Linked DNA regions of Homo sapiens. The protein of the gene in region 6 purifies or fractionates together with the protein of the main gene of each other region. This does not show direct contact. Each region holds a gene or a part of one and is shown on either strand. Other genes may lie near its edges. The genes, in order: TTF2, PC, FDXR, PTPMT1, METAP1, ZNG1A and NEK4.

Region 1 (3,500 bases), on a different chromosome or scaffold from region 6:
GAGGCTGAGACACGAGAATCACCTGAACCTGGGAGGCAGAGGTCGCAGTGAGCTGAGATTGTGCCACTGTACTCCAGCCTGGTTGACAGAGCAAGACTCTGTCTTTTAAAAAAAAAAAAAAAAAAAAAAAGACATGATTAGTCCAAAGCTGTATGTGTTTGCCACACATCCCAATACTCGACCAACATTACCTTTCTTCCTTGTCCTGCTTAACGTAAACACATTACCCAGAAGCCCCACCTTAGCAACCGTTTCCCTACTGAGCACTGACAATGTGCCAAACACCAGACCGAGGCCATCACACACGTTCTCTCTCCAAGTCCTCCAACCCAGGGAAGTTAGGGCCATGTGAGCAATATTCCAGATGAAAAAATGGAGGAAGGAACACGTTTATATGCCCTACCAGGAAATACATCTCATCAGTGCTCTTTCAGCAAGTTTTCATTCTACTTGGACCCAATTCCACTGCTGCTACTTCAATTCAGGCCCATCACCTCTCACTTAAGAGAAAGTTGGTGTGTCTGGAATCAGTTGGACCTGGGTTTAAATCCCAGCAATGCCACTTCATAACCATGGGTCCTCAGATTCCCTTTCTGACCTGTTTCAATGGTAGTTTCTCCATCTTTCTGGTAAACACGGATATTGAAATCTATCACAACAAATTATATGAAGGTAAAAGATAATGAACAGGCTGGGTGCAGTGGCCCACACCTGTAATCCCAGTACTTTGGGAGGCTGAGGTAGGAGGATTGCTTGAGCCCAGGAGATTGAGACCAGGCTGGGTAATACAGTGAGACCGTGTCTCTACAAAAAAAAAAAAAAAAAAAAAAAAAAAAAGGTATATAGTGGGCTTTCAATGGTAGCTATTATTTCAGTGGTCTCTTTGCCCTATTTTCACTTTCTAATCTGTCCTCCATAGTTCTTCTTTTAATGCAAATTGGGTCAAAAATCCTTCAGTGGCTTCCTAACAACTACCACAGTATGTCTGTATGGTAAAGGTCCTCCAGTAGTATGTAAATGGTTTTAAGTATCAGTAGAATATAACTTCATGCAATAAAGGCTTACCAGCCCTACTATACCAGCAGAAAACAATCCAAAAACAAAATTAAAAAAAATTCCATTTACAACAGCACTAAAAAACACAAACACTGAGAAATAAATTTAACAAAAGATGCATAGGAACTCTGTAATGAAAAGTATTAAACAATGCTCAGAGACATTTTTTTTTTGAGACAGAGTCTCGCTCTGTCACCCAAGCTGGAGTGCGGTGGCGCGATCCCGGCTCACTGTAAGCTCTGCCTCCGGGTTCACGCCATTCTCCTGCCTCAGCCTCCTGAGTAGCTGGGACTACAGGCGCCTTCCACCATGCCCGGCTAATTTTTAGTATTTTTAGTAGAGATGGGGTTTCACCTTGTTAGCCATGATGGTCTCGATCTCCTGACCTCGTGATCCGCCCGCCTTGGCCTCCCAAAGTGCTAGGATTGCCGCGCCCAGCTGACATTTTTAAAGTCATAAATAAATGCACTACATTCATGGATTGGAAGCCTCAATATTGACAATTCTCTCCAAATTGATCTATATAGATTCAATGCAATCCCAACAGGGTTTTCTGTGGAAATTTTTAAAAGCTGATTCTACATTTTATATGGAAATGCAAAGATCCTAGAGCAGCCAACGCAATCTTGAAAAAGAATAAAGTCAGAAGACTCACACTATTTTATCTGATTAATTATGTAAAGATAGGCAAATGGATCAATGGAACAGATTAGCAACCCCAGAAATAGACTTACATATATTGGATCAATTGAATTTTTACAAAGACGCCAAGCATTTCAATGGGAAAAGGAAAATCTTCAAAACATGATGCTAAAACAATTGGTAACATATGCAAAAATAAATGAACCTCTACCCTACCTGATATACTACACAAAAGTAATTTAAGATATAGATAATAGACCTATATGAAAAAGCTACTAAAAAAAAAAAGAAGAAGAAAAAAAAAAAACAGGCCAGGTGCAGTAGCTCACACCTGTAATCCTAGCACCTTGGGAGGCCAAGATGTGTAGATTGCCTGAGCTCAGGAGTTCGGGACCAGCCTGGGCAACATGGTGAAACTCCGTTTCTACTAAAATACAAAAAAATTATTGGTGCACACCTGTAGTCCCAGCTACTTGGGACTACTTGGGAGGCTGAGGCATAAGAATTGCTTGAACCCAGGAGATGGTGGTTGCAGTGAGCCAAGATTGTACCACGGCACTCCAGCCTGGAAGACAGAGTGAAACTCTCTCTCTCAAAAACAAACAAACAAACAAACAAAAATAAAACTATAAAGCTTCTAGACAATTCTTGGAAATATTTGTGATATTGGGGTAGGCAAAGATTTCTTGGAGATCAGACAAAAAGCACAAACCATACAAAAATGATGAGCCTCCCGAGTAGCTGAGACTTCAGGAGTGTGCCACCAGGCCCAGCTAATTTTTTTTTGTTTTTTCACTTTTTTTTATTTAGTAGAGATGGGGTTTCACCATGTTGGTTGGCCAGGCTGGTCTCAAACTCCTAATCTCAAGTGATCTGCCCACTTCAGCCTCCCAAAGTGCTGGGATTACAGGCATGAGCCACCATGCCTGGCCTAACTTGTATAGAGAATTTACAAAGAACTCTACCAACTCAGTTTTAAAAAAAGACAAAAATTTTAAAACAGGCAAAGATCTCCAAAGTTATACTTTATGATTCCACTTATGTAACAATTGTGCAATGACAAAATTTTAGAAATGAAAAGCAAATTCCTGATTGCCGGAGTGAAGAGGGCAGAAGGGAGGGAAGGGGGTATGGTTATAGAAAGGGCAACAGAGAGATCCTGTGATGGAACTCTTCAGTACCTTGACTGTAGTGGTAGATACATGACTCGACAGGATAAAATTGTATAGAATATACACACACACATAAATTAGTTCAAGTAAAACTACCTTTACCAATAAAACTGGTGGGTTGTACCAATATTAATATCCTGTTTGTGATATATTTCTAAGCCTTGCAAACGTTACCATTGGGGGAAACTGGATAAAGTCTACAGGGGATAACTCTGTATTATTCCTTACAACTGTATGTGAATCTAAAACTACTTGATAAAAATTTCAATGCAAAAAAAAGGATAAAATATTTAAACAGATAACGTCGAGATTTTCTGATGGCAAATAGGCACACCAAACAAAGTGGTGCATTTATAAATGAAATTCAACTCCACAATAAAAATGAATGAATTACTGATACATATTATATACATTTCACATACTGTTAAGTAAAAGAAGTCAGACACAGAAGAGTACATGCAGTAGGATTTCATTTATATAACGTTCAAGAACAATCAAAACACATCTAAAGAGATAAAAATCAGAACAGTGATTGCTGACAGGGGTGGAGATGGGAGGGGTGAAATTAACTTGAAGGGGACTGATGGCACTTATTGGGGTAATATTTTGACTCGGATCTTGGTTTTATGA
Region 2 (3,500 bases), on a different chromosome or scaffold from region 6:
TGTCCTGCTCCTTGCTTTCACCCGGTCTCACTTCCAGTGCCCCAGGCACTGTGATAGGTACCTGTCCTCCCACCACCACTCATGGGGGCTCTGGGACCAGTGGCAGGGCAGGACCTCAGATTCACTACTCTTATCCCAAGCCACAGTTCCCTGTGTCCCTCTTCCCTCTGTCCTCTCAGTACCTAATAGTGCCAGGAACAAGTAGGTGCCTAATGAGTGTTTTGGGTGAATTAGTTGAAAAGGGGTCAAACTGGGAACCAGTGAGGAGAGAAGGGTGCAAGATGGGGAATACGGAAAGGAGTTACTTTTGGAGGTGGCAGGGATGGCCAGCACCAAGGTCAGTATGGCAGTAAATCTGGCAATCCACATTTCTCACTGGCACCTTCTGCATGGGCTGGAGGCCTCGTTCAGGTCAACGTTTTCTGTGTTTTTTTTTTTTTGGAGACGGAGTCTTGTTTTGTTGCCCAGGCTGCAGTACAGTGGCACCATCTTGGCTCACTGCAGCCTCTGCCTCCCGGATTCAAGTGATTCTCCTGCCTCAGCCTCCTGAGTAGCTGGGATTACAGGCACCAACCCTTTGCCTGGCTAATTTTTGTATCTTTAGTAGAGATGGGGTTTCACTATGTTGGGCAGGCTGGTCTCGAACTCCTGACTTCAGGTGATCACCTGCCTTGGCCTCCCAAAGTGCTGGGATTACAGGCGTGAGCCACTGCACCCGGCCTCTGGTCAACATTTTCATTGAGGATGAGCATGGCCTTCTCTTTGGCTGCCTCCCAATATCGTCCTGCCCCCATCTGAATGGGCCCCGTTTCTTGTATCCTGAAAGTTCCTGCTTTGGGGCAGGTTTCTCACCCAGAGGCCTCCTTCACAGCAGCAGGGCATTTTGCCTGCTCACTCTGAAACCTCACCTGGGCCTGACTGACCGTGCCTTCCTCTCTTTCTCTTAGCTGCCTTCTAGTCTCACCTGTGGACACTTTGCCAAAGGAGTCGGGCCTGACGGTGGAAGATGGGAAATGGCCAAAAGAATAAACCATTTCCTCTTACTTACCGAATGAAAAGCTTGCTTCATCTTGGCGTTCAAGACTCTCTAATATGATTCCACCTGTTGGGCTCTTTCTTCCATTTGCCTCCGCAGGTACCCTCTTCTGTGTCAGCCCCCATAGTGAGATTAGTCACTGTTACCCCAAACTCACTTCTCACGGTCCCCCCTCTGCTCTTGTTCTTGTTGACTTTGTTTTCTGCAGGGCCTTGCTTCTTATCTTGTCCTGTCAAAATTAAATTATTCTTCGAGACACAGGACTTTATTAAGGCTTGCCAAATCTATTCAGTTGGACTGGGCTCTCTTTTCATAACGATGATGATAAGTAATGATTTATTGTTATTAATAATAAAAGTCAACTACTGTGTGGTGGTGACGGCCTTGCTAAGCCCCTTACATACACATAATGTGATTATCACAACAATCCTATTACGAAGGTCCTATTAGATCCATCTCTTACAAATGACGGACTCTCATAGGTGAAACTCAGAGAGGTGAAATAACGCCCAGAGTAACACAGCCAGGCAGGCTAGGTGGCTCACTGCTGGAGTCCCTCTCACGTGCCATCCCATTTTTGCTTCTTTTAACCAGCCCCTAACAACTTGCTTTTTGGCACTTTGTGGGCAGGGCCTGAGTGTACATACAGTTCCTTGTGCAAGGCATGTGCTCAATAAATATTTTATTGACTTGAGTGCCCCAGACATTGAATTTCAGCCTTGACGTTATCTGTCAAGGCAGCTGGTTTTCTCTGAACAGGGATTTGAGCTTGCTGGCCTGTTTTTCCATTTTGCTGTTCATTGACTAGTGGCTAGGGTAGGTGTGGCTTTTTCGGAAATAAGCAGTCAATAAAACTCCGAAAAGTGATTACACAATACCAACTGTGGGCTCCCATGGGCATAAACACGAGGTGGGCTCTTACTTATGGCAGAGAGGGGTCTCTGCAGGAAAGGATTTGAGGAAATAGCCAGGAAATAGAGTACACATCTCAGGTCACGTAAGACAGCTCCTTATTAGTTTCAAGTTGTGGAGTGAGAGAAGAACCAGACTCCCAGTATTCAGAGGGAGCTCCTGAAGGATTAGAGACAGCTCTGCGGAGATGCAGAGAAAGCGGGCCTGAGGCTGGACGGAGTGGGCAGGAAGAGAAAGCACTTCAGATAAAACGAACTGTTTCTAGAACTTCTTGTTCATGTGTAGTGGGTGGCAGAAAAGGGTTTTACTTAAGCGCTTCCCACCTAGCCTGTCGGTTAACGTCCCAGTGTGTCCTCTGTGCCAGGCATGGTGCCACTGCTGTGCGTGTGCTGCCTCATTGGGTATTCCCTAGTACGCTGTGAGATGGGCATTGTTATTATTCCCATTTTACAGATGAGGAAACAGACTTTGAGTGATTACAGAGCGGCTGTCAGAGTAACAAGAGGTGCAGTCCAGGCAGTGGGACAGCACAGCTGGCGCTTCCAGCTCTGTACCCTCCTGGTGCCCTCAGTGGAAGCAAAGAAACAGTTCTTGGCCGGGTGCGGTGGCTCACACCTGTAATCCCAGCACTTTGGGAGGCCGAGGTGGGTGGATCACCTGAGGTCGGGAGTTCGAGACCAGCCTGACCAACATGGAGAAACCCCCATCTCTACTAAAAATACCAAATTAGCTGGGCGTGGTGGCACATGCCTGTAATCCCAACTACCTCAGGAGGCTGAGGCAGGAGAATCGCTTGAATCCGGGAAGCAGAGGTTGCAGTGAGCCGGGATTGCGCCATTGCACTCCAGCCCGGGTAACAAGACTGAAAAAGTTCTCTGGGTTCTAAAATCGGTGTTCTTGCCACTCCTGTTTTCTCTGGGAAGTTCCTGGAGCAATGAGGGTAATGCTGTTTTTTCTTTTGCTTTAGATAGTGTCTGCCTTCTGGAGAGCTGACCAAACACTAAGGGTAAGTCCTGTGCCTGAATCCAGGCTGGCGGGATGCATGGGGGTCTTCACCAGGAGCAGCTGTGGATGCCAGCAGTTTGGCATGTCAGGTCTTAAGCTCAATCAATAAAAAAAGGCTGCGCTCTGATTTGTGGATAATATCCGTTTAAGCAGTCTTGTCTGTTTCCAGTTGCTCCTGATTTTTACAGGAAAGTGACATCTGGCTCCCTGCTGGCCCCATTTGGCAGCTGGCCAGCCTCAGCAGAAGGCCCTGGTTCTGGAAGGGTATGGTCAGCTTGGGAAGCTGGGCAGGAAGAATCCCTGGGGCTGGGCCGTCTCTGAGAAGACCCCTTGAGTCAGCATGGAGAGCAGGCAGCTGTGGTGTGAGGTGGTTCTGCCAGCTGGTTGTAAAGTCACTTGACACGGGTTTCCAGAGGGTGACGCTCAACCTTTGCCAGTCACGGTAACAACGGGGAAAAAGGGACCTGCCCTTCTTCCCCTGCACATTTTACAGGCATGTGCCACCACACCTGGCTAAGTTTTTTTTTTTCTTTTTTTTTTTTGAGAC
Region 3 (3,500 bases), on a different chromosome or scaffold from region 6:
GGACGTGACGGTGCCGGAGCTGCAGGAGGCCTACCACGCTGTGGTGCTGGTGAGTGCAGCTAGGCCCTGGCTTGGGGAGGCAGGGGCTGCAGAAGGAGGCCGGTGGCTCGGGGTGGAAGGCAGCAGGGGTGAGGCCAGGATGCAAGCTGCTGAGAAGCTGGAAGGAGGCCGCTGGGAGCCTGGGGGGCTGCCCGGCCTATCAGTGCTGGTGCTGAAGGCTGTGGGTCTCGGGCCTGCCATCTTTCATCAGAGCTACGGGGCAGAGGACCATCGGGCCCTGGAAATTCCTGGTGAGGAGCTGCCAGGTGTGTGCTCCGCCCGGGCCTTCGTGGGCTGGTACAACGGGCTTCCTGAGAACCAGGAGGTGAGTATGGGGAGCACGCCCGCTGCCTCTTCCTCCCCGCCCCTCAGCCCTTGGATGCCAGACCTGGGGGAAGAGGGAGCTGCCATCCAGTGGCGAGCTGTGACATTGTGCTGACTGAGGCGGGAGGCCAGCTGTGGAGGGCCTCGGGGGAGAGCTGGGTCCAGGTGGGGGAGGAGGGACCAGAGTTGTGGACTTTCCCGGTGTGGGGAAGCCCCAGGGCACAGTGGGGACCAGGCATGAGGCACCTGCAGACTGAGATGAACTGAGTGGAGCGAGGCTGGGGGACCCTATCAAGACCTTTCCCCTCCAGCTGGAGCCAGACCTGAGCTGTGACACAGCCGTGATTCTGGGGCAGGGGAACGTGGCTCTGGACGTGGCCCGCATCCTACTGACCCCACCTGAGCACCTGGAGGTGAGTGGTAGGTCAGGGCTGGCGGGGTTGGAGGTGGGGTCACCCTGAGGAGAGAGTGCCCTTGTCTGCAGGGTTCAGGCCTTACCTCTCCAAGCTGGGCTCAGTGCCTCTGTTTCCCCGTGGTGCCCAGGCAGAGGCTCTCTGAAGGGCAGTGCCATGAGCTTCCTCTTCTACCATTTTCCCTTCACTTTCTGCACTCCAGCTAAGTGGCGTTTTTCTCTTACTCTTCAGTAAGCCACATCCCCTGCTTGGATCATCCCCACTCACCTCCCACCAGTTAACAGTTAAAGTTCATCTTTGAGATCTTGGCTCGGTTGTCCCTTCCTCCAGGACTTCCCTGAATTGGTCCACTCCCCCATCGTGCCTCCTCCCATAGACCTGTCTACTTCTGTTTCACCGCATATCATCGCCACAGCAATTTTACACACATTGATGAGTATTTGATGAGTATTTCTCTCCCCAGCAGATCACAAGCTCTGAGAGGGCCTGCTCCTTGTCTCTTTTCCTCACCATTGACCACCCCGCCCCTCCAAGCTCTTTGCATGGGGGTGAGCACATGGTAGAGGCCCACTACATACTTGTTGAATGAAAGTGTGGGCCTGGTGTGCTATTAGTTGGAGCCATTTGCAGAGTTGGCAGCAATGCTCCATCTGGCCACCAGGGGGGAGCAGTGGCGCAATTTTGAGCCGCCAGCCTTCTCCAGGCCCACGGTGGGGACATGACCAAATGGAGAGTCCCCTTTCCTCGGTCAGTGTCTGATGACTCCAAGGCCCTCCTTTTGTGCCAGAGAACGGACATCACGAAGGCAGCCCTGGGTGTACTGAGGCAGAGTCGAGTGAAGACAGTGTGGCTAGTGGGCCGGCGTGGACCCCTGCAAGTGGCCTTCACCATTAAGGTGCTGGGGCCAGAGTGGGAGGAGCCAGGGTTCCAGGTGGAGGGGGCCTCTCCTTAAGGGGTTGGGGTGGGGCAGAGCCCCTGGGAGTAGCTGCTGCCTGGGATGGAAGAAGGGGAGCAGTCAGGGCCCCGGGGGCCCTGTGCCTTTGGGGAGGAGGCGGGTGGTGGTCTCTCCTGCCTGGGCTGGACCCTGGGGTGGGCTCAGGTGGACTGTGTTCTGGGCCTGACCTCCTCCCCCATTCCCTGCTCCCACCTTCAAGGAGCTTCGGGAGATGATTCAGTTACCGGGAGCCCGGCCCATTTTGGATCCTGTGGATTTCTTGGGTCTCCAGGACAAGATCAAGGGTGAGGGGCCCTGGCCTGGCCCCCCAACTACTAGGGAGAGGGTGGCCTAGGTCAGAGAGGGATTGGGGAAGGGCATGCAGGGAGAGGGCCGGGGCCCAGGGACAGCCTGGAGACATTCTACGTTGCTGACAGAGGTCCCCCGCCCGAGGAAGCGGCTGACGGAACTGCTGCTTCGAACGGCCACAGAGAAGCCAGGGCCGGCGGAAGCTGCCCGCCAGGCATCGGCCTCCCGTGCCTGGGGCCTCCGCTTTTTCCGAAGCCCCCAGCAGGTGCTGCCCTCACCAGATGGGCGGCGGGCAGCAGGTGTCCGCCTAGCAGTCACTAGACTGGAGGTGAGTCTCATGTTTCCCAAAGACACCCCCTTCCCAGGCCTCTGCCACCCGCCTGGTGTTGCCCACACTCTCCCCAACAGGGTGTCGATGAGGCCACCCGTGCAGTGCCCACGGGAGACATGGAAGACCTCCCTTGTGGGCTGGTGCTCAGCAGCATTGGGTATAAGAGCCGCCCTGTCGACCCAAGCGTGCCCTTTGACTCCAAGCTTGGGGTCATCCCCAATGTGGAGGGCCGGGTTATGGATGTGCCAGGTGAGAGGGTGTGAGGAGGCTGGGTGCTGAATTATGGTGAGAGGCCGAGAAGCTGGTATCTCCTGGGGCCATGCGTTCATTCATCTAGCAACATGTACTGAGAAGCTTCTGCAGGGCAGGCCCTCTCTAGGACCCAGTGCCGCCCTCCTCTTGGCCCTGAGAGAAGTTCCAGTCTGGCTAGGACATATGTGACATACGTCGGGTCATTAAGTCATTCAACAAACGTTTACTGAGGTCTTTTCTGGGTTAGGCCCTGTGCTTAGTGCTGGGATTGGAGATTAATAAGGCAGCCTGTGTCCTCAGGGAGCTTCCAGTTTTACTAAGTGCCCACATACCTATCTAGTGATTAATTCACTTGGTAAACATTTACCAAGGGCCTACTGAAACTGCAGGGGAGCAAGCCTCAGCTCCTAAGCTTAGGGATCCCCTCATCTACAGGGAAACTGAGGTGTAAGGGGGTCGGCCTGGTAAAAACAGGGAGAGAAGAATCCAGGGCAGTGGACCAGCGGCCACAGCAGGCTCAGCCGACAGTCTGCCAAGAGGCGTGGGGTGTCTGTGTGCGTGCACGTGGGTGTAGATTGTGGGCACAGGATGGCCAGGGTGGTATCCAGCCACCTCCCTCCCTTCCCCTTTTGTTACCCCCTCTCAGGCCTCTACTGCAGCGGCTGGGTGAAGAGAGGACCTACAGGTGTCATAGCCACAACCATGACTGACAGCTTCCTCACCGGCCAGATGCTGCTGCAGGACCTGAAGGCTGGGTTGCTCCCCTCTGGCCCCAGGCCTGGCTACGCAGCCATCCAGGCCCTGCTCAGCAGCCGAGGTCTGGGCCCCGATGCTGAGGTCCTGGGAGGTGGGGTGGGTGGTCCTTCTCTGGGCCTCACTCTTTGGGAGGGGGCTGTTC
Region 4 (2,681 bases), on a different chromosome or scaffold from region 6:
CAATACTATGCAACAGGTCAGGTGGAAAGTCAGTCTTTCTACCCAATTCTTGCTCTGCCAAATCCTAGAAAAAGGAAGTTGCACATGGGAAGCTGAGATCCTAAGTTCAAGACTGCCTCAGCCTACTCCACGTCCTCTCCGAGCTGGGCTTTTGGTTACAAGAATTTCTAGGAACGAGTATGCAATAGATGTTTTTATGCAACTTGTCACCATGGCTAGAAAAACAAGTAACTCATAATTTAAATAGGAGGGTTAACATGTCCTAAGGATACTCATTGGTTTAGAACTCAACAGAACCAAGAAAATACAGATTTCTAACTTGCTAGTTCAATTCTCACTTGGTGCAAAATACCCTCCTGAGACCCTGCTTCCAGCAGAGCCCTTATGACCAAAATTTTAATATTACTCAACTATATACACACTAGTCCACAGTAACACAAGGCCAGACTTAGCTATTCACATGACTTAGAAAATGCTCTGTGGGAGCCAGACATTTTGTAACTTAGGTTACAAAATGATGATGGACTACAGGGTATTTGTTTCTCCTAAATATTTTTAAAGCATCCCACCTGCCAATTATGACACATTAATAGGCAGAATCCAGTTTGGAGCCTGTTTCCAGAAACTAATATCCAGAACTTTACTCTGGAATACTTGAAGAAACTTGAGTACTATAAAGCTGAAAATGATCAGCACTATTATCTATGATATTGTTTCCTGACATGGTATTAGAACAAGTGTCTAGCCTTTTGCTGGGGTTGAATGGCTTTTGCAACTCCGTTTTTAGAGTGCCCGCTATAGGCCAGCACTTGATGTAATTTCTTATTTAAACTTCATAATACATTTAGTTTGAGAAAACATGTTGCATAAGGCAGAAGTCACTTTTGCTGATCCTCACTGGCAGGCAGCAGAGCCCCAGGTTACCCTGTCACAAGGCTCAGGTGCTTTCCATCATACCAAACCACCTCCCAACAGCCTGAAATCAAGCACACAGCTCCTTCCAACAAGGCCCACCAGTAGACCATGCTATTGAAGTTCTGGAAATCTGCTATAAATGGGACCAGAAAGACTTTTTTTTTTTTTTTTTTTTTTTGAGACAGTTTCACTCTGTTGGCTATGCTGCAGTGCAGTGGCACAAATCACGGCTCACTGCAGCCTCTACCTACTGGGCTCCGGTGATCCATCTCAGCCTCCCAAGTAGCTGGGACTACAGGTGCACACCACCACACTGAGCTAACTTGTTGTATTTTTTGTAGAGACGGTTTTGCCATGTTGCCCAGGCTGGTCTCAAACTCCTGGGCTCAAGCCATCCTCCCATCTCAAGCCTCCCAAAGTGCTGGGATCATAAGTGTGTACCACGATGCCCAGCCCAGAAAGAACTTTGGTACCTGAATCAGGTATGCTGCCACCATAGTGGCACTCCTGGAGCGCCCAGCCTTACAATGCACGTAAACACACTGGCCCAGCGACTGGTACTTGAGAGCAAATTGGACTCCCTTCTGGAGGTTGTCCAAGGTGGGGATCCCAGTCATGTCTACTGTGCTGAGCCGCAGCTGCTCGACTCCTAGTCTCTTCCACTCCTGGAACCAGGTCCACCAGTATGAAAAAGAGAATGAAAAAAAACTATGTGGGTGGGATGATAAGGGGCTCCCAAGAAGCAGCAAAGCAACAAGGAAGTTTCAGGGTTTACTACAATGGGAATACACTGTTGCCTGTTTTCTAAAATAGAAACTTCTTACAGAAATGCTTTTTTTTCCCATTCCAGGTGAGGACAGAAATGTCTTTAAAATGGCTGGCCTACATGGTTGGTTTTTCATCAAGCAACAGCTATGCTGCTGAGTTAGAATTATGTCCAAGATTTAAAGTGTTCCTTTTTTTTTTTTTTTTTTTTTTAAAGACAGAGTCTCGCTCTGTTGCCCAGGCTGTAGTACAGTGGCGTGATCTCAGCTCACCACAACCTCCACCTCCCAGTTTCAAGCGATTCTCCTGCCTCAGCCTCCCGAGTAGCTGGGACTACAGGCACGCGCCACCAAGCCTGGCTAATTTTTGCATTTTTAGTAGAGACGGGGTTTCATCATGTTGGCCAGGCTGGTCTCGAACTCCTGACCTCAGGTCATCCGCCTGCCTCAGCCTCCCAAAGTGCTGGGATTACAGGTGTGAGCCACCACACCAGCAGGTAAAGTGTTCTTAAACTACCCTTTGGGTACTTGAATATTTAGCTGCAAGATATTAGCTATATACATTTTAGCTGCAAAAAATTCAGCTGCAAACGTCTTAACATTTTATTTTGGCCGGGCATGGTGGCTCACGCCTGTAATCCCAACAGTTTGCAAGGCCAAGGCGGGCAGATCACCTAAGGTCAGGAGTTTGAGACCAGCCTGGCTAACATGGGGAAACCCTGTCTCTACTAAAAATACAAAAATTAGCCATGCGTGGTGGTGGATGCCTGTGATCCCAGCTACTAGGGAGGCTGAGGCAGGAGAATTGTTTAACCCTGGAGGGAGAGGTTGCAGTGAGCAGAGATCGCACCATTGTACTCCAGCCTGGGAGACAAGAGCAAAACAACATCTCAAAAATATATATATATTTTATTTTAGAGACACGATCTTGCTATGTCACCCAGGTCAGAGAGCAGTGGTATGCAATCATGGCTCCTTGCAGCCTCAAACTCCTAAGCTCAA
Region 5 (3,500 bases), on a different chromosome or scaffold from region 6:
AAAGAACAGATGAGCCTGGGCAACATAGTGAGATCCTGTCTCTTAAAAAAAAAAAAAAAAAAAGTAGTCAGGTGTAGTGGCACATGCCTGTGATCCCAGCTACTCAGGAGGCTGAGGTGGAAGGATAGCTTGAGCCCAGGAGTTTGGAGTTACAGTAAGCTATGAGCTATGATCTATATGATCTATGATTGTGCCACTGTACTCTAGCCTGAGTGATAGCAAGACCCTGTCTCAAAAAAAAAAAAATAGATGAATGAATTCCTCAAAGAATCACAGCAAGTCATAGGAAGAGAAAGTTCTCCAGGATATCAAACAAAATTAGAATCAAATCACTTTTAAAGCACTGAATAGAAACCTTAAGAATCTTACTTAAATGAATAATATCAATGTATTATATTTTCCTTCAGAATAAATATGTGATTTCACCTAATGAGTACCAACCACTACTACCACTCATCATAGGTATTTCACAAAAAGGCCTACAGCATAACCCTCTGAGCCTTAAACTCTGTCCTATGTTATGATGACTTGTGAAAATAAAATGACAAAATGTTTTTAAATATCATTAAATAAATGAAAAGGATTGTCATCTAAATATAGACTATCCACCAGATTAATTCTGAAATAGGCTTTTAAGAAGAAAACTGTTGACTAAAATTATATACTAACAATAGTTTAATGAAAAGCATGGCTAAACCGGGCACAATGGCTCACGCCTGTAATCCCAGCACTGTGGGAGGCCGAGGCGGGCAGATCACCTTACGTCAGGAGTTAGAGACCAGCCTGGCCAACATGGTGAAACCCTGTATCTACTAAAAATACAAAAAAAGGCCAGGTGTGGTGGCTCACGCCTGTAATCCCAGCATTTTGGGAGGCCAAGGTGGGCAGATCACGAGGTCAGGAGTTCGAGACCAGCCTGGGCAACATGGTGAAACCCCATCTCTACTAAAAATACAAAAATTAGCCAGGTGTGGTGGTGGGCACCTGTAATCCCAGCTACTCAGGAGGCTGAGGCAGAAGAATCGCTTGAAAACAGAAGGTGGAGGTTGCAGTGAGCAGAGATCACGCCACTGCACTCCAGCCTGGGCGACAGAGTGAAACTCTGTCTCAAAAAAAAGTTAAAAAAAAAAAAAAAGCATGGCTGGTCAGTCTAACAATATAACATTTGCTATCTTTATAAATCAGCAAACCACTGACTTCATGTCTAAGTACTGCTTAAACATTTCCTACCCCATGGAGAAAAAATCACTCTTACCCTACATACAAGTCGCATCCCTTCTATATCTTCAGATGAGAGTAATTTAATCTGAGAAGTACCTTTAAGAGCCTGTTCAGATTCAGACATTCCTGGAATGAAAATTCGGTAAGTAAAACCAAAATGAATGCAAAGATGTAGTATTTATTTGCATAATTATAAACCTGTGGCATAAAAACAGTAGTCTCACTGTTTCACACAACAGTAATTCATGATTTGGGATGGTCTAGGTTAGATTTTTAAAAAAAAACATTTTCAACATCAAAGGGAAACTCGCTAAACCAACTGAAGAAAAAATTCTAAAAGATAAATTTTCAGACCTATTAGAAATCAGCCAATACTTATAGAGTACTTATTATATGCCAGGCCGTGTGATAATCAGACTCAGTAAATGATATACATTTGAAAAGTACCACAGAATTTACAAATTACTTTCATAATCATCTCATGAAGCAATTATACATCAACAACTGATGAATTAATTACACTATTTTCTGAAACAGGAACCAAAGTTAAGTGTTTTTCAATCTCCAGTTTGTGACCTTTTATTAGGCTACACTTAACATTTTTTAAAAGTAAATAAATGGGACAGAAAATATTAAAATGGCATAACAAAGTATTATACTCGTATTATACGGAGTAGGAATAAGTGCTGCCATGAAATCTTTATTTATATACACATACAAAGATCACGTTATAAAAGCCATTTCTGAGTCATACTCAAAAAAGTTTTAAAAATATTGCCCTAAAAATCTTCACTAATAAAATTTGTTAGCTTCAAGTTTTACATACATGAAAAGTAATAAAGCCAGGATAGCAATTAACTCAAAATCTAACAAAAATAATGTCAACTAATCTTATTTACAAGTACTAATGGAAAAATTCCAAATAAAAATATTAACAAACAGAATCCAAAAAAACTTAATACATCAGGATGCAAGTGAGATTCATACCAGAAGGCAAGGATAGTTCAATACTGACAAATCTATTCATCCAATTCATCATTCATAAATAAAGTAAAAGTAAATAATCATCTAGAAGGAAAGTTAATTCTGATAACATGGCCAGCTACCACCTTGACATGATAAATATAAATCTCAAACTGAGAACCAACATTACAGAATGCCCACTATCGGCACTATTATTTAACACTGTCCTGGCAATACTAGCAGATGCAATTAAACAAGAGAAAGAAATAAAACATATAAAACTAGAAAAGAAAGGACAAAATTCTTATCAATTTCAGATGTGATTATGTATCTCTAGAACAGAAGAATCACCTGGTAAATGACCATAAATACAAATTCAGCAAGTTGGCATATTGTTTAAGATAAATTTATCAAAATCAATAACTTTCCCACATACAAATAATCAGCTAAAAAATACAGAAGCTATTATGTACAAAAACAACTAAAAAGATGAAGTACCCAGGAATAAATTTAACAATAAAATCCCTACATGAAGAAAATCTGAAAACACCACTGAAAGACATAAAAGGAGTCAAATAAAACTTTAAAAACATACCCTGTTCCTGGACAGGAAGACTCAATATTGTAAAGATGTCAATTCTTCCAAAATTAATCTATAAATTTAATACTATCCCAATAAAAAAATGTCAACAGGATAATTTTGAGAACCAGACAAGCTGATTCTAAATTTCACATGGAAAAACAAACATGCAAGAATAGCCAGGAAAATTCTGAAAAAGAGGAAAGGTAGGGGCAACAAGGCCTACCAAATATTAAACATTATATAGCTATGATAATTAAAAGTTTGGCAGTGGTACATGATTAGACAAATGGGTTAATAAAACAGAATAGAATCCAGAAATAGACCTAAAGACATGTGAGAACATAATACAACAATATAGGTTGCACTTCAAATCAATAAGGAAAGGCTGATTTTTTAAATAACTGGTGATATAATAACCAGGTATCCTTCTGAGAAAAAAAATTAAGTTGCATCCCTATTTAACTCCTTATGCCAAGTAAGTTTCAGATATACAAATGATTTTTATCATACATAAAAAAGACTGAAACCATAAAAATGCTAGAAGAAAACATAGGAATATTTTTTTATAACTTCTGCACCAAAAAGGTCTTTCTAGGTCATAGAGCCATACACACTGTAAAATAAAACACTGATAAATTTTACTATGTTAGGATACTCAAAATCTGTAATAAATGTAATGACAAAACAAACGGTCAATTGGTAAAAAACAGTTTTAAAAACATACATCAAAAGG
Region 6 (3,360 bases):
AAACTCACTCAAAAACCCTGATGAAGGGGTCCTCATTATTTAATTCATTCTTTCGTGGATTCTCAGCAATAAGAATATATGTAACACATACAATGTACTCACTACACAGGGCCAGGTACTTTTGCCTGAGTCACCTCATTTTATCTTTTGACTTACTCTTCACAACAATCCTGGGGAGTGAAGATAACTATTTCATTTTATAAATTGGGGAAAATAAGGGTCAAAAAAATAAGCTACCCAGAGCCAGGAATAAAACTCAAAACCAAAGTAAATCTGTTCTCTTAAAAAAAAATACAAAAGAAAGGCTTGGCTTATCTTTAACTGAATAAGCATGTGCCAAGAGGAGAAGAGTTCTTAGCGATGAGAATGATAGGATAATGCCCTCTTTGGCTTTAGTAAGGGGGACATCATCATGTATTGAATATTAACTTTAGGATTTATTTTTCTTCTTTATCTTGATAAATCTCTCACTGTCTACCCTAAAGAAACAGAAGCTTAACATTTCCTCTAACAGGTCACCTAATTAAAACCCAAACCTCCCTTTGCCAATATAACCCCAAATTTCAAACTCAGAGATGAAAATACACAAGGGCTAAGCATAACATTATAAAAACATACACCCCACCTTGGAAAATAGAGGCTCAAAAGCCAAGCTCAAAATGAATTTAAAAAGGTAGAAAATAATATACTAAAGCACATCTTTGCATAACTTCCTAGAACTGCATATCTGGCCTAGCAATTTTACTCACCATTACATAATCATACAGGCTTACAGCAGAAAATACAAAAAGACCAAAACTATTTTATAATCCAAACTCAAGAGAATCGCTAAAGTATTAAAGACCAATTTAGGCAGAAACATATGAGACATTTCTTTCTTTCCATAGGTTACTGGGGAACAGGTGGTGTTGGTTAACTTCTTTAGTGGTGATTTGTGAGATTTTGGTACACCCATCACCTGAGCAGTATACACTGCACCCAATTTTTGTCTTTTATTCCTCATCCCCTTCCCACCCTTTCTCCCTGAGTCCCCAAAGTTCATTGTGTCATTCTTATGCCTTTGCATCCTCATAGCTTAGCTCCCACTTATGAGTGAGAACATAGCGATGTTTGGTTTTCCATTCCTGAGTTCTTTCACTTAGAATAATAGTCTCCAATCTTATCCAGGTCACTGCGAATGCCATTAATTCACTCCTTTTTATGGCTGAGGAGTATTCCATTGTATGCATATATATCACAGTTACTTTATCCACGCATTGATTGATGGGCCTTTGGGTTGGTTCCACGTTTTTGCAATTGCCAATTGTGCTGCTATAAACATGCGTGTGCACGTATCTTTTTCGTATAATGACTTCTTTTCCTCTGGGTGGATACCTAGTAGTGGGATTGCTGGACCAAATGGTAGTTCTACTTTTAGTTCTTTAAGGAATCTCCACAGTTTTCCATAGTGGTTGTACTAGTTTACATTCCCACCAGCAGTGTAGAAGTGTTCCGTGTTCACCACATCCATGCCAACATCTACTATTTTTTTGATTTTTTTATTATGGCCATTCTTGCAGAAGTAAGGTGGTATCGCACTGTGGTTTTGATTTGCATTTCCCTGATCATTAGTGATGTTGAGCATTTTTCCATATGTTTATTGGCCATTTGTATATCTTCTTTTAAGAATTGTCTATTCATGTCCTTAGCCCACTTTTTGATGGGACTGCTTTTCTTGCTGATTTGTTGGAGTTCATTGTAGATTCTGGATATTTGTTCTTTTTCAGATGTATATATTATGAAAGATTTTCTCCTTCTCTGTGGGTTGTCTGTTTACTCTGCTGACTGTTCCTTTTGCTGTGCAAAAGTTCTTTAGTTTAATTAAGTCCCAGCTATTTATCTTTGTTTTTATTGCATTTGCTTTTGGGTTCATGAAATCCTTGCCTAAGCCAATGTCTAGAATGATTTTTCCAATGGTATCTTTTAGAATTTTTATAGTTTCAGGTCTTAGATTTAAGTCTTTAATTTATCTTGGGTTGATTTTTGTATACAGTGAGAGAGGAGGATCCAGTTTCATTCTCCTACATGTGGCTAGCCAATTATCCCAGCACCATTTGTTGAAAAGGGTATCCTTTTTCCACTTTATGTTTTTGTTTGCTTTGTTGAAGATCAGTTGGCTGTAAGTATTTATTTCTGGGTTCTCTATTCTGTTCCATTGGTCCATGTGACTATTTTTATAACCGTACCATGCTGTTTTGGTGACTATGGCCTTATAGTATAAGTTTGAAATCAGGTAATGTGATGCCTTCAGATTTGTTCTTTTTGCTTAGTCTTGCTTTGGCTACGCGCATGTGTATGTTAAACCATCCCTGCATCCCTGGTATGAAACCCCTTGATCATGGTGGATTATCTTTTTGATATGTTGTTGGAATCAGTTAGCTAGAATTTTCTTAAGGATTTTAGCATCTATGTTCAAGGATATTGGTCTGTAGTTTTCTTCTTTGGTTATGTCCTTTCCTGGTTTTGGTATTAGGGTGATACTGGCTTCATAGAATGATTTAGGGAGGATTCCTTCTTTCTCTCTCTTGTGGAATAGTGTCTTTAAGACTGGTACCAAGTCTTCTTTGAATATCTGGTGGAATTCTGTTGTGAATCCGTCTAGTCCTGGACATTTTTTTGTTGGTAATTTTTTAATTACCATTTCAATCTCCCTGCTTGTTACTGGTCTGTTCAGGGTAATTCTTCCTGATTTAAGCTAGGAGGGTTGTATCTTTCCAGGAATTTCTCCATCTATTTTAGGTTTTCTAGTTTATGCATGTAAAGGTGTTCATGGTAGCCTTGAATATCTTTTGTATTTCTGTGGTGTCAGTTGTAATATCTCCCGTTTCATTTCTTATTGAGCTTATTTGGATTTTCTCTCTTTTCTTGGCTGATCTTGCTAACGGTCTATCAATTTTATTTATCTTTTCAAAGAACCAGCTTTTTGTTTCATTTATCTTTTGGATTTTTTTTGTTGTTTTGTTTCAATTTCATTTAATTCCGCTCTGATCTCCTTTCTTCTGCTGGGTTTGTTCTTGTTTCTCTAGTTCCTTGAGGTGTGACCGTGGATTGTCTGTGCTCTTTCCGACTTTTTGATGGAGGCGCTCAGGGCCGTGAACCTTCCTCTTAGCACCGCCTCTGCTGTGTCCCAGAGGCTGACAGGTTGGGTCACTCTTGTCGTTCAGTTTGAGGAATTGTTACATTTCCATCTTGATTTCATCTTTGACCCACTGATCATTCAGGAGCAGGTTATTCCATGTATCGGCATGGTTTTGAAGGTTCCTTTTGGAGTTGATTTCCAGTTTTATTCCACTGTGGTCTGACAGAGTGCTTGATATAATT
Region 7 (4,003 bases), on a different chromosome or scaffold from region 6:
GAATTAGCATATGATCCAGCAATTTCACTTCTGAGTGTATACCCAAATGAATTAAAAAGAAAGCAGGGACTCAAACAGATATTCGTACACCCATGTTCATAGCCGAATTATTCACAATAGCCAAAAGATGGAAGCTATCCGTGTCCATGACTGCATGAATGGATAAACAAATTGTGGTGTATACATATAATGGAATATTATTTGGCCATAAAAAGGAAAGAGGCCAGGCACGATGGCGCACACCTGTAATAACGGCATTTTGGGAGGCCAACGTGGGTGAATTGCTTGAGCCGAGGAGTTCAAGACCGGTCTGGGGAACATAGTGACACCCTGTCTCTGAAAAAAAATAAAATAGGATTAGCCAGGCATGGACGTGTGTGCCTGTAGTTGGGAGGATGGCTTGAGCCCAGGAAGTCTAGGCAGCAGTGAGCACCATTGCACCACTGCACTCCAAGCTGGGTGGCAGGGCGAGACCCTGTCTCAAAAAAAAAAAAAAAAAAAAAAAAGGAAAAAAAGGAAGCGCTCTGGGAAAGGGAGGCTTTGGCTGGAACAAATGGTGAATTCTTTTGGCACCCCTGAGCTTTCTTGGGCAGGCATTTTAAAGGGGCCTAGGCCCACCTAGAGATCCGCCCTTAGGCTGTTAACTTAGCATGATGCCATGTTAGAGTTTAGTCAAGTCTCTTAGTGCAGTGGTTAGGGTAGTCGTTAAATGCTGAGGAGTCTTTGTAGTTCTCAATTAGCAGGCGAGTTTTTAGGGATGAAAGGTACTGATAATTTACTTTGAATGTATCAAAAAATAGGATGGATTGCTGGATGCAGAGACGGCATGTGATAAAGCGGATACAGCAAATGTTACTGGTAGAGAGTCTGTCACCCAGTCATTAGAACATGAGCTCCAGGAGGGCAGGGACTTTGTTGGCCTGGCACATAGGCGGTCAACAAATATTTGCAGAATGAACGAACAATACTTGTAACGGCCTTAGGACAAACAAGTGCACAAAAAGAGGAAGCTTTCCCTGACTCTGTTGTGGCGGGGATCCGGACGGTGGAACGGACGCACAGAAAGTGCGCGGAGCCTGGCGGAGTCGCTCTGGCCTCCTGGAGCCTCTGCTCTATGGCGGGTCCTCCCGGGGCTGCGGAACCTCTCTGGCCGCTCGTGGCGTCCGCTCTATGGCCGTCCTTTGGGGACGCAGGAGCATGCGCAGAACTGCTCCCGGCCCGGATCGCTATGGCAGCGGCGTCGTCGCGGGCCGGGCCCCAGCAATCCCGCCCGGGCCCGGCTGCCTCAACAGCCGCCCCCACTGCCCCCTCTCGGGCATGAACCGAGCTTCTTGTTGCCGCCCGCTGCCCTACCCGCCGCTGCCGCCGCATCCCGACTCTGGGCCAGCGCTGGGAACATGCCCCTGGCCGCCTACTGCTACCTGCGGGTCGTGGGCAAGGGGAGCTATGGAGAGGTGACGCTTGTGAAGCACCGGCGGGACGGCAAGCAGGTCTGCAGGGGTGGGGCCCGGCAAGGGGCGGGGGCGGGCAGAAGTGCGCCGAGGGCGCCGACCGGTAGATTAGGTCGGGGGTGGTCGCAAGAGGCTCATCTCGGATGGCGTTTCCTCAGGGAAATGGTCCCAGACCAAGACGAGGCCTGGCCTCCCTGTAATATGCGCCCAGAACTACTTCTACTTCTTTGTTGTGTTAAATTTTTTTCCTTTTAATTTTCATTTTCTTTAATTACAATTCTAAGTTTTATGTAAAAATTTTCAGTCTCTGCCTATCTACTTCTTTGTTGTACTAATTGGCATGCGTGATCTACACACCTTTCTCCCAACCCCGATACTCTCATGAGAGCCGGTATCATGCATTCCCAGGACTTAATACAGCGCCTAGCAAGCATTATTCCTTGAATGAAGGGCCCCAAACGTCTCTACTGTAGACTGCTGGATTCACTTAAAACTCGACTCATTTTCTTCCCGCCAAACCTTCTCTCATGTCTTCCGTTTCAGTGAATAGTGACACCAACCCACCAGTTGCCCAAGCCGGACACCTGGAGTCATTTTTAAGCCTCCCCACGCACCCCAACACTGATTATATTCATCTATCACTAAGACAATAGGCCTCCTCTCATCTCTACTGCTACCACCCCAATCCAGGACACCCTGTTGTCTCTAGCAAAGCTATGGCCACGGTTTCCCAACTGGTCGCCGCCACTTGACTTGCTTTTCTCCAATCCATCACTTTCACTGCAGCCTCAGTGATCTTTCTCAAATTTAAATCTGATGTTGTCACTCCTCTGTTTAAAACACTTTATCCCATTACTCTCAGGATAATGAACCAATTATTCAATGTGGTTTATTAATAGGGTGACAATATAATGTACAAACTGGGACAATTTTGAAACTGAAAGGCATTATTAATAGTTACACCAGGACAGTAGGACTGCTCCAGGCAAGCTGAGAAGAGATGTTCCCCCTAAATATAGGGCCCAATTGCCTGTTCTTCCTTGTCTCTGGTGCTAGTTGCTTTGCGTGGAACACAAGCTCATGCATAAGAAATTTATTCAGTAGGCATTGGGGGAATCATTGGATTTTGGGGCTGATGATAGGGAACTAGCAATAGCTAGTTATTTGAGCTTTAGTTTACACTTCACAAAACACATTTATCTATGTGTTGAAGAAATGAATTGTATGGTCTTTGAAATGATTGAGGGCAATGTATTAGGTATTAGAGGCTATTGATTTCTTTTAAGTGTGAATAATTTTGTATGCTGAAGATCAGTGACTATTAAACTTATGGGGCCATGGATCCCTTTGAGTATCTAACGTAATCCACAGACTATTCTGTCTGCAAATGTATAGTCAAGCTATATTTTATTCACCTTTTTGGGAGAGCTTAGATATTAAGGAATTTCTTTTTTTATTTTTTATTTTTTTTGAGACAGAGTCTTGCTCTGCCTCCCAGGCTGGAGTGCAGTGGTGCGATGTTGGCTCACTGCTGCAACTACTGCCTCCCAGGTTCAAGCAATTCTCCTGTGTCAGCCTCCCGAGTTGCTGGGACTATGGGTACACACCACCACGCCGGGCTAATTTTTGTATTTTTAGTAGAGACAGGTTTCACCATGTTGACCAGGCTGGTCTTGAACTCCTGACCTCAGGTGATCCACCCGCCTCACCCTCCCAAAGTGCTGGGATTACAGGTGTGAGCCACTGTGTATGGCCAGATATTAAGGAATTGCTAACACAGGTTTTATAATTGATCCAATGGTATGTTATCTTGAACTCACTTTTTTTAGTCATTAATGAAATTGTGAAATGCAGATGGGAAAGGTAATTTTTGTGGCCCTACACTGCTATAAATCTAACTTATAAGAAGTATCAATAATAGCAAATATTTTCCCCGATTTTGTGCTTGGTGAAAAACAAAATGAATAGGTTATCTGACAGGCTCCACAAGGTTGGTTTTGAGGGTATTCTTGAGAGCCCTTAGATAACTCTGAGGCCACAAATCTTACGTTTATTTGCACATTGTAAAAATACATGGTTTGTTTTTAGTATGTCATCAAAAAACTGAACCTCCGAAATGCCTCTAGCCGAGAGCGGCGAGCTGCTGAACAGGAAGCCCAGCTCTTGTCTCAGTTGAAGCATCCCAACATTGTCACCTACAAGGAGTCATGGGAAGGAGGAGATGGTCTGCTCTACATTGTCATGGGCTTCTGTGAAGGAGGTGATTTGTACCGAAAGCTCAAGGAGCAGAAAGGGCAGCTTCTGCCTGAGAATCAGGTGGTAGAGTGGTTTGTACAGATCGCCATGGCTTTGCAGGTACTGTGTAGACTAATAGCATCCTAGCTTGTTCCCAGATGGCAAGAAGATGGCAGGTGTATTTTAGGAAAATTTTTCTTCAGATACTTACATATAGAAATGTATTTTTTGGAAAATTCATTTGTGAAGTTGACCCAGTCACTCTTTCTGTAGCATTGGAACTTTTCTAAGTAAGTGATACCTATATTAAAATAGAC

What was found.
Region 1: the proteins of ZNG1A (region 6) and TTF2 purify together in Homo sapiens (affinity purification with mass spectrometry; 2 studies listed by BioGRID and IntAct, with this or other methods). This does not show direct contact.
Region 2: the proteins of ZNG1A (region 6) and PC purify together in Homo sapiens (affinity purification with mass spectrometry; 3 studies listed by BioGRID and IntAct, with this or other methods). This does not show direct contact.
Region 3: the proteins of ZNG1A (region 6) and FDXR purify together in Homo sapiens (affinity purification with mass spectrometry; 3 studies listed by BioGRID and IntAct, with this or other methods). This does not show direct contact.
Region 4: the proteins of ZNG1A (region 6) and PTPMT1 purify together in Homo sapiens (affinity purification with mass spectrometry; 3 studies listed by BioGRID and IntAct, with this or other methods). This does not show direct contact.
Region 5: the proteins of ZNG1A (region 6) and METAP1 purify together in Homo sapiens (affinity purification with mass spectrometry; 4 studies listed by BioGRID and IntAct, with this or other methods). This does not show direct contact.
Region 7: the proteins of ZNG1A (region 6) and NEK4 purify together in Homo sapiens (affinity purification with mass spectrometry; 3 studies listed by BioGRID and IntAct, with this or other methods). This does not show direct contact.

The regions. Positions count from the first base shown.
Region 1 is NC_000001.11:117,063,326-117,066,825, reverse strand, and holds part of TTF2 (transcription termination factor 2), read right to left. Parts: intron 1-3,500. UniProt on the Homo sapiens protein: DsDNA-dependent ATPase which acts as a transcription termination factor by coupling ATP hydrolysis with removal of RNA polymerase II from the DNA template. May contribute to mitotic transcription repression. May also be involved in pre-mRNA splicing.
Region 2 is NC_000011.10:66,951,884-66,955,383, reverse strand, and holds part of PC (pyruvate carboxylase, mitochondrial precursor), read left to right. Parts: intron 1-947; 5' UTR 948-1,135; intron 1,136-2,915; 5' UTR 2,916-2,954; intron 2,955-3,500. UniProt on the Homo sapiens protein: Pyruvate carboxylase catalyzes a 2-step reaction, involving the ATP-dependent carboxylation of the covalently attached biotin in the first step and the transfer of the carboxyl group to pyruvate in the second.
Region 3 is NC_000017.11:74,862,995-74,866,494, reverse strand, and holds part of FDXR (NADPH:adrenodoxin oxidoreductase, mitochondrial isoform 1 precursor), read left to right. Parts: coding exon 1-49; intron 50-250; coding exon 251-364; intron 365-674; coding exon 675-776; intron 777-1,545; coding exon of another isoform or gene 1,546-1,563; coding exon 1,564-1,671; intron 1,672-1,930; coding exon 1,931-2,015; intron 2,016-2,147; coding exon 2,148-2,347; intron 2,348-2,427; coding exon 2,428-2,599; intron 2,600-3,248; coding exon 3,249-3,419; intron 3,420-3,500. UniProt on the Homo sapiens protein: Serves as the first electron transfer protein in all the mitochondrial P450 systems including cholesterol side chain cleavage in all steroidogenic tissues, steroid 11-beta hydroxylation in the adrenal cortex, 25-OH-vitamin D3-24 hydroxylation in the kidney, and sterol C-27 hydroxylation in the liver.
Region 4 is NC_000011.10:47,568,599-47,571,279, reverse strand, and holds part of PTPMT1 (phosphatidylglycerophosphatase and protein-tyrosine phosphatase 1), read right to left. Parts: intron 1,581-2,681; coding exon 1,389-1,580; intron 1-1,388. UniProt on the Homo sapiens protein: Lipid phosphatase which dephosphorylates phosphatidylglycerophosphate (PGP) to phosphatidylglycerol (PG).
Region 5 is NC_000004.12:99,037,221-99,040,720, reverse strand, and holds part of METAP1 (methionine aminopeptidase 1), read right to left. Parts: exon of another isoform or gene 2,780-3,500; intron 1,348-2,779; coding exon 1,256-1,347; intron 1-1,255. UniProt on the Homo sapiens protein: Cotranslationally removes the N-terminal methionine from nascent proteins. The N-terminal methionine is often cleaved when the second residue in the primary sequence is small and uncharged (Met-Ala-, Cys, Gly, Pro, Ser, Thr, or Val).
Region 6 is NC_000009.12:123,697-127,056, forward strand, and holds part of ZNG1A (zinc-regulated GTPase metalloprotein activator 1A), read right to left. Parts: intron 1-3,360. UniProt on the Homo sapiens protein: Zinc chaperone that directly transfers zinc cofactor to target metalloproteins, thereby activating them.
Region 7 is NC_000003.12:52,768,141-52,772,143, reverse strand, and holds the start of NEK4 (serine/threonine-protein kinase Nek4), read left to right. Parts: upstream 1-1,203; 5' UTR 1,204-1,397; coding exon 1,398-1,490; intron 1,491-3,539; coding exon 3,540-3,806; intron 3,807-4,003. UniProt on the Homo sapiens protein: Protein kinase that seems to act exclusively upon threonine residues. Required for normal entry into proliferative arrest after a limited number of cell divisions, also called replicative senescence.